3 separate regions of the Homo sapiens genome follow, and all the other regions are reported to be linked to region 3. Evidence: microRNA targets listed by miRTarBase, many of them from high-throughput screens and not tested one by one. Region 3 holds a microRNA gene; each other region holds the end of a gene's coding sequence.
Evidence for each region. Region 3 holds the annotated microRNA hsa-miR-32-5p (UAUUGCACAUUACUAAGUUGCA, at 918-939, opposite strand). A microRNA usually pairs through its seed, bases 2 to 8, with sites in the 3' UTR of a target mRNA and lowers its output. Matches are read on the target gene's strand: a 7mer-m8 pairs with bases 2 to 8, a 7mer-A1 pairs with bases 2 to 7 and ends in A, and an 8mer does both.

Region 1: miRTarBase lists DDI2 as a target of hsa-miR-32-5p. The part of its 3' UTR that is shown has no 7-base or 8-base seed match.
Region 2: the mRNA of PGAM4 is a reported target of hsa-miR-32-5p. Seed matches in the 3' UTR shown: 7mer-m8 at 1,639-1,645.

What each region holds. Positions count from the first base shown.
Region 1 is chr1:15,656,470-15,659,469 of GRCh38, reverse strand. It overlaps DDI2 (DDI proteasomal shuttling factor 2), which reads right to left. Exons shown (of 10, transcript NM_032341.5): 9 at 2,791-2,853. The coding sequence ends at 2,837. Among named protein-coding and RNA genes, the nearest start is that of RSC1A1, 1.7 kb to the left of the region's middle.
Region 2 is chrX:77,966,323-77,969,322 of GRCh38, forward strand. It overlaps PGAM4 (phosphoglycerate mutase family member 4), which reads right to left. Exons shown (of 1, transcript NM_001029891.3): 1 at 1,627-3,000. The coding sequence ends at 2,552. The region is part of intron 1 of ATP7A (ATPase copper transporting alpha); the gene reads left to right. Among named protein-coding and RNA genes, the nearest start is that of PGAM4, 1.8 kb to the right of the region's middle.
Region 3 is chr9:109,045,355-109,048,505 of GRCh38, forward strand. MIR32 (microRNA 32) reads right to left here and starts at 944; the gene lies at 875-944. All of the region lies in intron 14 of TMEM245 (transmembrane protein 245), which reads right to left.

The DNA of each region.
Region 1 (3,000 bases), not on the chromosome of region 3:
CACTTGCCCTAAAACCACCAGGGACGCTTGTGAAGTATGCAGACCCTGGGGTACCATACTTGAGAGTAAATCCAGGAATGTGCATTTTCAATAAGCTCCTTGGGTGATTCTTAAGGATATTACAAATCCTGAGAATCTTTGCACCAGAATGATTCTCATGTTAATGCACTTTTCTTGTTTCAAATGTGAACACTGAGGTTACAAATGAGAAGTCTTAAACCAGGTATACCTGGACAGAGAGGGAATTATAAAGAGAAATAAGAAATAACATAATGCTTGGGGACAGAGAAGCAAATGTTCTATTTTATTTCTAGCCAAGCTTTCCAAAAATCATGGTAAAACTGGGTGAGCATCTGACTCAGAAAACAAAAGTAAACTAATGATCAGCAGATTAAATCACAATCATCATCCTACCAAATAATACAACTCTAAACTTAAAAGGCTTATAAGTTTTTATCACATCAATAGTGTGCAACTAAGTTAAGAATATTTAAATGTTTTAAAGAAAGGGGAATGTGGAGGGAGATGGTTCATTAATAGTTTTTCAACTGGCAATGACTATTTAGATTCACTGCTACCTTAGACCACCCAAACAAGACGGCTCAGTGTAAGCATCATAGTATCATTAAACATCATTTCCAGCTCTTCTTTTGCCACCAATCCAGTTAAAAATTGACCTCTACGCATGTAAGTGTAAGAATTTTTTTTTTTTTTTAAGACTGTGTTTTGCTCTTGTTGCCCAGACAGGAGTACAATGGCGCCATCTGAGCTCACCGCAACCTCCGCCTCCCGGGTCCAAGCGATTCTCCTGCCTCAGAGTAGCTGGGATTACATGCATGCGCCACACACCCGACTAATTTTGCATTTTTAGTAGAGATGAGGTTTCTCCACGTTGGTCAGGGTGGTCTCAAACTCTTGACCTCAGGTGATCCGCCCGCCTCAGCCTCCCAAAGTGCTTGGATTACAGGCAAGAGCCACCGCACCCGACCATTGTAAGATCTTTAATTAAAAATCAAAAAGGGCTGGGCACAGTGGCTCATGCCTGTAATCCCAGCACTTTGGGAGGCCGAGGCAGGTGGATCACCTGAGGTCAGGAGTTCGAGACCAGCCTGGCCAACGTGGTGAAACCTCATCTCTACTAAAAATACAAAAATTAGCCAGGCGTGGTGGTGGGTGCCTGTAATCCCAGCTACTAGGTAGGCTGAGGTGGGAGAATTGCTTGAACCCAGGAGGGAGAGGTTGCAGTGAGCCAAGACTGCACCACTGCACTCCAGCCTGGGTGACAGAGTGAAACTCAGTCAAAATAAAAAATAATAATAATAAAAAATAAAAATCAAAAGGTCAGTAACAAAAATGACTTCAAAATACAATCTATTATTAGGACAGATGCAACTCAAATGCTCAGTACTAAATGTTAACATCCAACAAGAGGGCTTGATCTTAAAAAGCAGCAAAGCAGTTATATTCAAAAGGCTTTAAATCATTCTAATAAACTACTGGTTAACAGCATGAGAAGACAAAGCATTGTTTCAGGAAGCTATTGACTTCCCATGAAACAATCTTACCTTACTTACACTTTAGGAGTAAAAAGGAAAACTGCACTTATCTCAGTTTAGGCTATACCCATTAGAGTCTAGAAACACAGTTATTAGTTTTTTTATTTTCATACCACCAGATGTCTAACAGTTATTAGTTTTATTTAAAACTAAGGCTGACTCTGGAAGAGGTTGAATTTTGAACTAATGTTAACAGAAACAATGCACTGTAGTGAAATATCCATGTAAGCAACATAAAGAGGTATGGTAAGGGCCTTCTGGTATTTGTGTGTTAGTTATAAACAAGTGAGGTCAAGGTGAACACACCCTCAATGAATTTTGTACTAAAAAAGTAGCATATAGTCCTCTTGTAGCTGAGAAGGTCAGTTTCACTAGCCTAAGTCCTAAACGTAGGGGAGGACTAGGTCAGTTTACAGAATGACAGGAGAAGAGGATGAGGACAGTGGATATTAAGAATAATTCAACTATGCCTGCTTTTAACCTATCCTTACAAGGAAAAGAAAAAGGAAAGAAAGAAGAGAAACTAAATGCTATGTATCTAATTCCAACCAGCTTGCAAACTCCTACAAAGTCTTATGATGCTGGTTTAAAAGACCATCTTTCCTCCTCTTAGTAAGTCAGCCAATGTATTCGAGCTGATGTTTACCATTATTTACATCAGAGGAAATGGAAGCAGAGTGCTTCCTGAAAATCTGTCAGGCCAGAGACAGAAGGAAAAGCAAAGTCTTAGTTCCTGTTGTTCAGAGTCACCCCTGACAAGTCCTCTGGCCTAAGTTTCCATTTCTTCTTCAACAAAATTAAAATTTCTAACCCTCTATAACTCCAGGTAGTTGTATGCAGTAATGTAAAAGAACAGCTTTCAGTTTTTCAGAGGAAAGGCACTTATGAAACCCATGAAAGCATAGTTATCTCCAACAACAAAGTGTTGTGAGGCCAATATTCTTGATGTGATATTTATAGTAGCCAAGATGGGGTAGATATAATAGACACTGTTTTAACTGGGATTTTCTCCCTGTTGGATGGTTCTAATAACGAATCCATTTTTAAACAGGAGTTTATGTTACATATCCATGTATGCATGCCAAAATACAAATGCATATAGGCTAGTTGTAACCAGATTGAACAAGGTGAAATGGTGAATGACAAATGCTAACTTCCCAAACTGCTGCGGATACAGACTGTCAGATCACAGATGACAACTGGATGGAAGGCTTAACATGGTGTCTATAAATACCTGGTCTGGGGCCCACTCCAGCTGCAGTACACACACACTACATGCATCATGGCTTCTGACGCTCTGTGTGAATTAGGAAACAGACAAGCAAACTTGGGTTAACAATGCAAACCACACAGCATGCAGGGTTATAGTTTCCGTTCTTTTGCCATCTTTAAAATCAGGAACTGGTAGATTCCAAGTTGAGGGATGTTTCTGTAGTTTGGACAT
Region 2 (3,000 bases), not on the chromosome of region 3:
GCAGTAAATATTCGTAAGTTTGAATGTGGCAATGGTTTCTTAGATATGACACAAAAAACACAAAAGAAAAAAGATAAATTGGACTTCACAAATTAAAAGCTTTTGTGATTCAATGGACACCATCAAGAAAGTGAAAAGAATGGAATACCGATACATTTTACACATCAATGTACCTTGAAAACATTATGCTAAGTGAAAGAATCCAGACACACAAGGACACATATTGAATGAATCAATTTATATGAAATGGCCGTATAGGCAAATCCGTAGAGATAGGAAATAAAATTAGTGTTTGCCAGGGGCTGTGAGTAGAGAGGAAATGGGGAGTGTTGCTAATGGACATGGGATTTCTTTTTGGAGTAATGAAAATGTTTTGCAACTACATAGTCATTATGGTTGCACATCCTTGTGAATGTACTAAAAAGTACTGAACTGGATACCTTAAAAGGCTGAATTTTTTTCATTTCTTCTAAAAAAAACCAGGATAGATGTGCAGAACGTGCAGGTTTGTTACGTAGGTACATGTGTGCTATGGTGGTTTGCTGCATCTATTGACCCATCCTTTAAGTTTCCTCCCCTCACCCCTCACCCCCCAGCAGGCTCCGGTGTGTGATGTTCCCCTCCCTGTGTCCATGTGTTCTCATTGTTCAACTCCCATTTATGAACAAGAACATGCAGCATTTGGTTCTCTGTTCCTGTGTTAGTCTGCTGAGGATGATGGTTTCCAGCTTCATTCATATCCCTGCAAAGGACATGATCTCATTCCTTTGTATGGCTGCATAGTATTCCATGGTGTATATGTACCACATTTTCTTTCTCCAGTCTATCATTGATGGGCATTTGGGTTGGTTCCAAGTCTTTGCTATTGTAAATAGTGCTGCAGTAAACATACGTGTGCATGTGTCTTTATAGTAGAATGATTTATATTCCTCTGGGTATGTACCCAGTAATGGGGTTGCTGGGTCAAATGGTATTTCTGGTTCTAGATCCTCGAGGAATCGCCATACTGTCTTCCACAATAGTTGAACTAATTCACATTCCCACCAACAGTGTAAAAGCGTTCCTATTTCCCCACAGCCTCACCAGCATCTATTGTTTCCTGAGTTTTTAATAATTGCTATTCTGACTGGTGTGAGATGGTATCTCATTGTGGTTTTGATTTGCATTTCTCTGATGATCTGTGATGTTGAGCTTTTTTTCATATGTTTGTTGGCCGCATAAATGTCTTCTTTTGAGAAATGTCTATTCATATCCTTTGCCCACTTTTTGATGGGGTTGTTTTTTTCTTGTAAATTGTTTAAGTTCCTTGTAGATTCTGGATATTAGACCTTTGTCAGATGGGTAGATTGCAAAATGTTTTCTCCCATTCTGTAGGTTAAAAGGCTGAATTTTATAGCATGTGAATTATATCCCAATTTAAAAAAGAATGCATATGTCTTAGTTCAGGCTTCCATAACATAATACCATAGACTGGGTGGTCTAATTGTTCAAAGCTCCACAGAAATTAGTTGGAGAAGTTACAAGAGTCCATTAATCATCTTGCTTTGTTAGTAGCAGCGGGCATGGTTCAGCATTTTCTGCTTAAGTTTCTCTGAGCTCACCAAAACTAAAATGATGTTGTAATACTTTTTTTTTTTAATTGCACATCACTCCTTTATTATACTGATCTGGTAAAAGGATTTAGTACAGTTATGCTCAGATGAACACTGGGCCCATGTGGCAGGGTCAAGCAACTAGAACATGATTCAGAAATCAGTGAAAGACACACTTGGACAGGACCAAGAGGCATTTCACTGCCATGAAACAAGGCAGGAAGGGATTCTAATACACACACCAGGAAGCACTCCTGCCCCTCAGAGGTCAAGGAGCTGATCCTATATTGGTATGAGGAATGGCTTATTTTCTGATGACCACATGTGGGACTATTTCAACCGCCACAAGAAACCCCAGAAGGGTTATTGTTTTGTATTATTAATATATACTATACTTTTTTAATAAAAGTAAATATAACACATAACGAAATTCAGGATTGATCCCAACCTAGAGCCAGATCCTCTGGGGTCAAGGAGGAAACAGTTGTCACATCACCATGCAGATTACATTCATCTTCCACTGGAATGACTAGAGCCCCCAGGCAGTGGCCTGACTGCAGAAGAGCAGAGGACAGACTCTGCTCATGGGGACAGACAGGCTCTGTTGCTTCTCCTCATTGGTCGTGGCTTAGCATGTTCCTCCCCAAAGTCCTTAGTAAACAAAGCACTCACAAAAACCCAAGTCACTACTTTTAAACTCTGTTGGATAAGGGGAGCTTTTCCACAGCTTAGACTGAGAACCTGTGCTCTAGAACTGCTATTCTGACTAGATTGTATGAAGGGAGTGGGTGCAGGCGACAAAATGGCTAAAATGAAAATGGGAGCCACTGGTCCCCATCTGCAGCTACAACTCAAGATGTCTACAGATGTGGTCAGTGTGACATGTGCAGGTGGGAGGGGCAGAGGGACAAGACCAGCAGGGAGGGTGCTCCTGGGGACAGTATCCTCCCCGCTGGCCTTCACTTCTTGGCCTTGCCCTGGGCAGCCACAGCTTCTATGGCTTTGCACACCGTCTCTTCATCCCCCAGAAACTGCATGGGCTTGATAGGCTTCAAGTTCTTGTCCAATTCATAGACGATGGGAATACCAGTCGGCAGGTTCAGCTCCATGATAGCCTCTTCAGAGAGACCCTCCACATGCTTGGCAATGCCCTGGAGGCTGTTGCCATGGGCTGCAATCAGTACACGTTTCCCCTCCTTGATCTGGGGAACTATTTCTTCATTCCAGAAGGGCAGAGCTCTGGCAATAGTATCCTTCGGACTCTCATAGGAGGGTAGCTGATCTTCTGTGAGGTCTGCATACCTGCGATCCTTACTGATGTTGCTGTAGAAAGGATGGTCGGGCTCCATCGGAGGTGGTGGGACATCATAGGAGCGCCTCCAGATCTTCACCTGGGCCTCACCATGCT
Region 3 (3,151 bases):
CTGCTGAAGGGCACAGGGGATGAGCTGCTTACGTGGAATTCTTCCATTCTCACCCTCCAAAACAGTGGTGAAACACAGAAACATACAATGACAGCATCACAATAGATCATCTGGAGGCTATGGTAGTAGTAAATATTAATTCAATATTTTCATACAGTAATACATGGTTTTGTGTCCTTGACAATGCCTAGTGATTGTGGATGCTTACTCTAATGCTAACTAAAAAAATAACAAGGGGTTGTTTCAATTACATAGGCAAATAGTAAACGTGTATTTCAAAACTAGTTCCATTATTAGCCCACTAAAATGAATTTAGCAGTTTTCGAAGCATCACAATGAGAAAGTAAAAGACACATTTTTAAGGTAATTTACCTTGGAAACTTAAGTTTATGAGATGAATCTTTCATCAGGTAGGTTAAGCATACCTTTACTGTCTTGATTATTATTTAAGAACTCCAGTTAATTTAATTTCCCCAAATATGCATAAGAGATTTCTGCTTCTCTATTCCAGTGTTGGGAGAGATTTCTTCAAATAAATGAAAATACATTTTCTTACAGCTTTACATTCTTCCTTATACATTTAAATATTGTTTATACTCTTAAATCAATGAGAATTTGTAATAAATATTTCATTTGCTCAAAGTAAAAAATGGAAACACTGATTTACTAAATGATCATTGCTGACTTTTTTTAATCCAAATACTTTTAATTCTCCAAAATTGGAAGGTACCGATGGGAAGCATGTTCACTTTCCAAATGAGAATCGCATGGCATACACACTGTCTTATCTAATTCATCAGGACACCCACCCACTGGCACTGAAAAGCTGTAATCCCAGCAAGCAAGAGCCATACCCGTGTGCATGCACTCATGTGAAAATATCACACACACTAAATTGCATTGAGGCCGTGACAACATGCAACTTAGTAATGTGCAATATCTCCACCAGAGCAAGCAGAATGGGAGCATCAGGGAAGAAGGGTGTGATGTATACATTCAGGAGACAACATGCTGCTGAAGAGAGGAAAATGGTCTGGGGATAAAGGATGCATGCCACTGACTCAAAACTTCATGAAATGAAAACCCAATTGCAAATGTATTCAACTGAGAAGAATACTTATTCAGAATCAAAATAATGAGTAAGGTTCAAAACTTCAATGAGATAGTGATCATAAAGAAACCACATACTTCAGAAGGCAAAGCTTCACGAACAGACACTATCACTGTCTGGTCATGCAATTAACCCCCAATTTCAATTCCATTTTTGACTTATTCACAGATCATATAAATGAATGTAATGATTTCCACTTAGCTGCAACATAGATGATGATTAATGACTGATGCTTATAAAAGTTGGTATCACTGATATTTGTAGGCTAAACTGCACTTTGAGGACATTACAATATTTTCATAGTCATTCATAAATTATAAATAACCACTTATTTTTCCCTCAAAATCTTTTTCCATGAAGAAACATATTGCCTCTTCAACACAAACCTTCAGGATGAAAAATCCAACAGGAGCTCTTAGAAAGAGAACTCACTACCATCTTCTCCACAGGAGAAAGCTCTTCAGAGGAATCTCTGTAAAATCTGTACATTTTAAGTCTTGAATTTGAGCCAGTAAAGAAACAGCCCTAGGAACTTAAACTGCAAAAAAAACACCTTGAATTATAGCCTTAAAATTACATAACTTGATATAGCTTTGGTTAGAAAAATGTCTCAGGCCATAACCCATTCTTTAGTCTGTACCATATTTATCAGACTCATAAAAATCTATCAATTCTGAGAACCATTAGATTATAGTTCTGGTACCAAAGGTTGTTAAAATTTTTTCTGTATTTAAAATAAGGTGATAATAAAACAAATGGTTTTTAAATGCCAGTATACTATGGAACCAAGACATAAGCTACTGTTATAATACATAATTAGTGTATGCACTCCCAAGAAGGGAAGTCGAATCTAATTTGTAAAAGACTGATTTCCTCATATCGCTGTAGATGACAGCACTCTTTGTAATCTCAAATTCTCTCCTGAGCCAAAGACCTGAATTTCTAAATGCCACCCTCTTATGTCCACAAATATAAGTCATGATCTTCCCTAACCAGCTCCTCTTGAAAGAAGGCATCATGGTGTAACAGAGTATGTGCTTTCAATCAGCTGAACCTAGGTGTGACTAACAGCTTTACTTACCACTGACTGGCAAACACAACAGCTAGGAATTAAGTTTAAAACAAAAAAGGTGGCATATTTGGTATGAAAAAAGGTGACAGACATTTAGAGGATGGTCTGCTGTAAGAAAGCAGAACAAGAGAAAATTCAAAAGCTGTGATGTGAAAATAGAAACATTTTTCTAAGAATAAGAGTCAGTAACAATGAAGATTACTTGAGGAAAATGGAAGCATCATCTTTCTTGAAGTTCTTTATGAACAAGGTAGATATTTTTCTGCAAAGCTTGGCTTAAGCCACACTGACTGGAGAATTCCTACCAGCCTTTGATATGGCTGCTACAATAAATAGCTTTACCCCACTGGGAAGATAAAAGATTAGCCTTCCTTTTTGGTAGAGCATTTGCAAAAGCTTTTCTGAGTCAGAAAGATATCACCTAGATAAACAAAAGATTATCTATTGCTAGAATTTTCATCATTTCATTTATTCAGCAAAGATGATAGTCAATGGTCATATAGGACTTAGGAGGGAAGCTATAGCTGGTACTTCCTTCGAAACAGCTTCACCCCAATTGCTGTTACACTGGATAATATACTCCCAAATCTGGAATCTTTATAGATGGCCCCTGTGTGGATACCTGAGGACACTATACAGGTGTTAAGAGCATTTTTTTTAATCCCACTTGACAGCCAATCGCGGAAACAAGGTATTGGTGAAGATCTTACCCAGGCCTTGCTAGTAGGAAAAGGGGAGAGAACTTAGCAAAAGTTCTACAGACATTGTATTTTAGGAGCATGCATCCTGTTTGAATGTAACTGAAGGTTTTCTAACAATCAAATGGGATTCTCCCTAGCTATTACATGAACACAGTGAAAAAATATACCAAGATCAATCAGGTGCAATTATCAGAGAAAAAAAAAAAAATCAAGATTTCTGTGGAAGACTAGTTCCAGACAATATTTATTAAAAGTATGTGGAGACAG